Homo sapiens: one gene and its partner. The protein of the gene in region 1 interacts with the protein of each later gene in a pairwise test. Each region holds a gene or a part of one and is shown on either strand. Other genes may lie near its edges. The genes, in order: STAC and LIMD1.

The links.
Region 2: the proteins of STAC (region 1) and LIMD1 interact in a two-hybrid assay, tested with the Homo sapiens proteins (one study listed by BioGRID and IntAct).

Annotation. Positions count from the first base shown.
Region 1 is NC_000003.12:36,484,886-36,488,710, forward strand, and holds part of STAC (SH3 and cysteine-rich domain-containing protein), read left to right. Parts: intron 1-91; coding exon 92-173; intron 174-877; exon of another isoform or gene 878-1,040; intron 1,041-1,248; coding exon 1,249-1,364; intron 1,365-3,825. UniProt on the Homo sapiens protein: Promotes expression of the ion channel CACNA1H at the cell membrane, and thereby contributes to the regulation of channel activity.
Region 2 is NC_000003.12:45,681,526-45,684,395, forward strand, and holds part of LIMD1 (LIM domain-containing protein 1), read left to right. Parts: 3' UTR 1-2,870. UniProt on the Homo sapiens protein: Adapter or scaffold protein which participates in the assembly of numerous protein complexes and is involved in several cellular processes such as cell fate determination, cytoskeletal organization, repression of gene transcription, cell-cell adhesion, cell differentiation, proliferation and migration.

The DNA of each region.
Region 1 (3,825 bases):
AGAAACCAATTGGTTTTATTTAGGGAGCTCTTGTATGGTTTTCTCCATCTCCAGTGACATTAACCCCTTGCCTTCCTCATTCTCTCTCCAGCCAAAGGGGTTTCGGCGTTACTACAGCTCCCCCTTGCTCATTCATGAACAGTTTGGCTGCATTAAAGAAGTTATGCCCATTGGTGAGTTGGGACATTGATGGGTTGAGTTGAGTTTGAAGCAGCAAAGTTAACATTAATGGCTACTGTCCTCCCATGGCTGCAAAACCCGTGGGGTATCTCTGTGTGTTTGTTTGGTGGCTATTTGGGGTATGACTGTGTGTTTTGCTGGAAGGGAAACATAAAGTGGACCAAATTCTCCAGGAATTTTCATCCTCTCCCTGATGAAGCTCAGAAAACACCTAAATCCCAAAGGCTACTGATTAGTAATTCCACCATCAGCAGCATGGTGGAGTGGAAAGAACACGGAGAATGGCTTCCCCCAGACCAGGCTCTAAGCCCAGCTCCCTATTGACAACTGTGTGTCTTTGAACAAGTTACTTGACCTGTCAACCCCCACAAAATGAGAACAGCAATTGCTGCTTTTCATAATTGCTATAAAAAATAAATATAGGTTATTCACCCATGCTTAGTAGGAGCTCAGTGAATATATTATTCTCTAATGCAGATCAAAAGATGCCCTCTATTTATTGATAGCTTTGGCTTGGATTCTTCTCTAACAATATCTTTCAGTTTACTTCTATTATTTTTTTTCTCTCTCTGAAAATCTCGACATCTATTTTTGCTTTTTTTAGGGGGGGCAAGTTTTAAACTAGAAATTTATAAGTTAGAAAGCTTTTAATTAGAAATTAATGAAGCCCAGTAGTGACAAGTTATTTCTAAAACAGTTGCCTCCTACTGCAAACTTTGTGTCTCAAGTCTTTGTACCTTGGTGAGCACAGCCTCCCAGTAGAGGAGATAAAGCTGATCCCTGCAAGAACCTGGAAATCAGAGAGGAATAACGAAAGAGGAAATTCAATCAGGAAGAATTCGGGAGCAGAGTACTAGCTGGTACATGGCAGGACCTGCAAATGGGAGCATGCTGGGTGGGGGTGCATCTGTGAGGAACACTTGGCCATGAAAGCCCTGTCTACCCAGAGGCTAAGTTCCTCTGCACAGAGCCTGCTTCTCAGGCGCTGTTCACCCAGGAGATGTGGTAGGCAGTTGGCTGGGTCCTCTCAGATGAGCTTCCTCAGATGAACTTTCTCTTCTGTTGCAGCCTGTGGCAATAAGGTGGACCCTGTCTACGAGACCCTCCGCTTCGGCACCTCCCTGGCCCAGAGGACAAAGAAGGGCAGCTCCGGCAGTGGCTCTGACTCACCTCACAGAACCTCTGTAATTATCCTCTTCCTTCCTCGGTTTGTCTGTGGTGGTCTTGGGCAGAGCGGGCCTCAGGCACTGCAGTATGGGGTATTCCACCTGACTGCCTCATGAGGGCAGGTCTGCAGGGAGTCAGGCACCTGCCAAAGAGAAACCCAAAGTGCTTTGAGCCACTAAGGATTAACTTCCTGTTGTCAACACCAAGGGATTATTTTACTTTCCTGTCCAAAGACCATCCCCTTGGCCTCATGCTCCTTGACCCTTCCCATGGACCCCCTCTCCTTTACCCTCCCACCAACATTAGATAACATATGAGTCAACATACAGAAATGTTTGGCTCAAACAATGGTCAGGAACTTGGAAATCCTGGCTATTTCCAGTTTTCCGTTTAGCTACATTCCAGTTCAAAGACACAGCTATTTCTCACATCTTTTGTCTTTTCTCTCTAAGAGAGGGCACACCTCTTGATTGCACACAAAAACTGCACTCTCAAAGTTACTTGAACTGTGACTCTGTGGGACACTCACTCTTCCAAGCACCTCTCCTAAGTTCTATCTGACTTAAACTGAGTGTTCCATGCATCTCTGTGACCTGTTATCATCATCTTGTCTCTGGTTGTTTCAATCAGAATTTCTATAAATGCTCCAAGATGCCATACAACTCTGCAGCCCATGCTGAAAGCCACCATTCCTCCAGCAAAGAGGCAAGGACCTTCCAGTTCACATGGCCACTTAGGATAGCCAGCTCCTAGTTTCCATTTCCATTGTTGCAGCCCCTGCTGGACTGGAAGCTTCTAGGCAAGACACAGATGAGCCTTCAAATGGTCTGCCCCACTGAGTCCTCTCAACATCAAGTGACTAGGTGGATTGTGGGAAGAGGGGCAGGGCACATGCCTGGGAGGGGTTCTCAGAGACTGAGTTGAAGCAGCTTCCTCATTGGGTGCAGGTTAAGCCACAAGATTGTAGGTAGGTGAATAGGAATGTAGGTCGGGTAGGCAAGTAGGTGGGTTTATAGGTCCTCTATTGGGTGCAGTTTAAGCCACAAGATTGTAGGTAGGTGAATAGGTCGGGTAGGCAAGTAGGTAGGATTATAGGTCCTCTGCCTGATGCCATGTGGCTATCCTCAAAGCCATCTTTAAACTCACTGAAAGCCCTGTTCTTCATGCATCCACTGATTTCTAAGAGGAAAGAACTAAAAATAATTTTTACTCTTTTTCCTTACTGTACATAAAATTGACATCAGATAGTTCTTTCTTCTACTCAGTTAGCAGACATGAATGAAGGGCCTACAGTTTACTAGCACTGTAGGGGACACAAAAGAAGAGGAAGTCATAGCTTTTACCCTTAGAATTCACAACTTATTTCTGAAGACCAAACCAATAGCGAAGAAATTTGACAATGGTGGCATTGTTTACCATTTTTAAAAAAATACACTTTTATATGTCTTATCCCATTTTATTAAGATTGAGAACGTAACATACACGTGTTAAGGATATTATAATGACTGTGTCATATGAGTACTGAAGCATTTCATAGTAAAGATGAAAAATGTTTCACTTCGGTAGACATTGCCTCAAAGCAGTGAGGGGATAATGTGTGTCATTTTAAGATACCTGATGACCTCCTTAGGGAGGAGATCATTGTTATTTGGCATCCACAAGATAATGCTAATTCTTTTACTGAAAGAAGGATAAAAATGGTGCTAAATGTGATGAAAATATACAAAGCATACATGGGTAGGATTTATATGTAAATAAAGGCTGCTTAGGTTGGGTAACAATAATATACATAAAGTGTTTAGCACAGGGCCTGACATAATTGACACTCAATGAATGGAAATTGTTACTGTTCTATATTTTAATTCATTTAAAAATATTTTTTGAGAGATGGGGTCTTGCTCTATTGCCCAGGCTGGCCTCAAACTCCTGGAGTCAAATGATCCTCCTGTCTGAGTGTACTGAGTAGCTGGGATTACAGGTGCATGCCACTGCACCCAGCTGTTTCATTTTCATTACGCATCTAGCCTTAACAGTGTTTTCTTTGAACCTGAATTATTGTGAAGTTAAACAAGGAAGTAATCCATTAACAAGGCAAATATGTTACCTGAGAAGGGCATTTCCCAGAGCCACTCATGCTTGGGCAGTGTTAGAAACCCCTGACTTACTCGAGGGTAACTTCGCTGTTCTGCTCAGCCCATCTCCTTCTCTGATGTGTCCTCCTGTAACTCCTTAAGTTGGAGTGTTCCCAGGGGTCTGCTTTTGCTTGGTCTTCTTATTCTACTCTCTTTGGTTGATCTCTGTCACATTCCTTTAGTTCAAGCACCGTCTCTACATTGATGACTCCCTTAGGTATTTCCTCTTGCCCAAGCACCAAACCAGTCCTACAGATATTGCAAATCAGCAGATTCAGACTAAACTCATATTCCACGAGTGATTAGGTCCTATAATTCAAAACTGAGAAATAATATCAAAGATACC
Region 2 (2,870 bases), 9.2 Mb from region 1:
TACACTGGTTCCCTGAGCCCCAGGCCCCAAGAAGAGGGCCAGGTGAGACCTGCACACGCAGTGGGCTGCATTACAAGAGGAACCCCCATGCTTAGGGGACCCTGGTATTTGATAATGGGCAGTAAGCCTGCCTGACTTTTGCTCCAGAGACAGACACTATCTCTGTCATCCAAGACTGTTCACTAGATAAACATCCTTGAAAATATAAGTCTGGAACCTGGCAATTGGTGTCTATTCTTACCAGATGTATAAAAATGTGAGAGGCCTTGGAGAATCATATCCCAAGAATCAGCAGTTTCTTTTACTGGACCTTTAAGATTGAGACTTGTAAGGTCCTGATGCAGTGACTTGTAAGGTCACTTTGTCTCTCTTGTGAATGTTACTGTTTTTTCTCTTCTGAGGTTATGACCAAAGAATCCTCAAGGCGAGTGATCCTTCAGGTTTGAGACAGCCACATGCAGGAAGACAGGACTTGTAGAGTGTTGGGGCCAAGTGTGTGGTTAGAATCCTTGGGGTGGGGAAAGAGTTTGTTCTAGACTCCAGTGTAGTCCTTGTGGCTACCAGGTCTGACGTGCCAAGGACACGGGAAAGCTGGGAGTGAGGATACTCATAGTCATAGCACCTTACACCAGAATAAAAGTTTTTTTTTTCTTTTTAAGTGATGAGAGAATGGCTAGTCTGATTTTGCCAACATGGGCTGCTATTTGCTTAAGACCTTGATGGTATAAGGAGTGAAGATGCAATCAGGGTAAAAGGCGGTCTGGAGTTGTGGTGTGCTGGCAAACCAGCCCTCTGGGGCAAAAAATTAAAAAGCCTTGATATGGAGTGTTTGCTGATACCTATGATGTAAATATTCCCGCCATGGCCACTTTCCAGCTACCAGCAAGGCATCCTGGCACCAGGGATTGGGAGGAGATGGCATAGTCCTAAGAGTCAGCCTTGGGCATTGGGCCATGTGGGACTGGGCAGTGGGGTATCTGGTCTGGTTCTAAGTGCTGTGATGAAGCAGTAGCAGCTGTAATAGCTGGCATTTCCCGTGTGCTCATCACATAGCAGATGTTATTCCAAGGACTGTATGTTCTTTATCATCCCTCATTTGATAGACAAGACAACTGAGACACAAAAGGGTGAAATAAACAGTAAGTACTCCATCCCAGGCCATCTCATCCAGAGGGTGCTGTCTTGACCACTCTACTACTCTGGTTGATGGGAGGCAGTAAATTGTCCATCAGTATACTTCTTCATCAAAGCTACATAGTCAAAAAGCCACAGGAGGCTGTGAGGAGAAGCTCACTGCTGCTCTGTTGAAGTCTGTATTGGTTTCCTATGGCCACTCTTAACAAATTACCACAACCTCAGTGGCTTAAAACAACACAAATATATCATTCTGTCATCCTGGACACGAGCCAAAGGTTGTCGGCAGAAGCGAATTGCTTCCAGAGGTGCTATAGGGTGCTGCCCATTCCTTGCCCCTTTTCCGCTTCTAGAGGCTGCCCATTTTCCTTGGCTTGTGGCTGCATCATTCTGGCTGCTTCTATTGTCACACCTCCTCTCTGACCCTCCCTGCCTCCTTGTAAGGACACTTGGGATTACGCCCATCCAGATAATCTAGAATAATCTCCCATTTTGTGATTCTTAATAACATCTGCAAAGCCTCTTTTACCTTGCAGAATAAGATATTCACAGGTTCTGGTGAGGAGGACAGGGACATCTCTGAAGGGGAGGGAAGCAGGAGATAGGGTCTGGAGGCATGGAATTGGCTTCCTAAGGCCAATTCAGGCTGACTTCCTAGAACTAAGTCAAAAGGAAAACCCCAACTTTCCACGCTCAAGTAACAAAAGGACCAGAGGCTACTCCCTTTGCAACCTCCCCACCCCCAGCCCCTTTTCTGCATGGCAGGTGAAAAATTGAAAGTATCGCTAATTGATCCCCTCCCACAACCAATCAGACTGGTCTTAGGCCAAGTCTTCATTTGCCTAGGAGTATAACTTTGTAACTTCAGCCTCTGATTGGGCGTTTTACACAACCAGTCAGATGTTTGTATAGGGTGGTGTAACTTTGTAACTTTGCTTCAGCCTCTGATTGGTCCCCTCCCACAACCAATCAAACTGATCATGGACCTCTGCTTCATTTACATAGGGTGTACACCAAGTAACCAATGGGAAACCTCTAGAGGGTATTTAAATCCCAGAAAATTCTGTAACCGGGTTCTTGAGCTGCTTGGGCTGCTCCCACCCTGTGGAGCGTACTTTCGTTTTTCAATAAATCTCTTTTGTTGCTTCATTCTTTACTTGCTTTGTGCGTTTTGTCCATTTCTTTATCAAGACGCCAAGAACCTGGACACCCTCCACCGGTAACAGGAGGAGCATTAGTCAGCCTACCACAGACTCCAACGAACGTTTTTTGAGAGGAAATGAAAGAATATTCCTAAGTTATTGGGTGCCTTTTCTTCAGGAATCCCTGAAAGTGGGGGTTTGCAATTTTCCCTGGATTGAAAACAGAAATGCTTCCTACACAAACATGATTGAGACCTTGTACTCTAGGTGTAAAAAAACAGAGTAGGTCATACTCTGTGGGTTATGGTCAGAGAGATCTGGTTAGAAGTTCCCAGGTAGGCGACAGCCCTAGATGTGTGACACTTCTAGGAGAATCTCTGGCTATGTGGATACGTCCAGGTGTGTAAGGCAGCCTCAGGGACTGCCACCACTTGGTCACATACATGTCCCTCCAACTAATCCTAGCTCTCAAGGACAGGTGGTTCTGGGCCCTGTGTTGCCCATGAGACTTGGTCCACGGCAAGCCTGTGACGGAGTGAAAGTGAGGGGACACCCAATTTGAAAACTCGGCAGGAAGCCAGACTCCATGACATA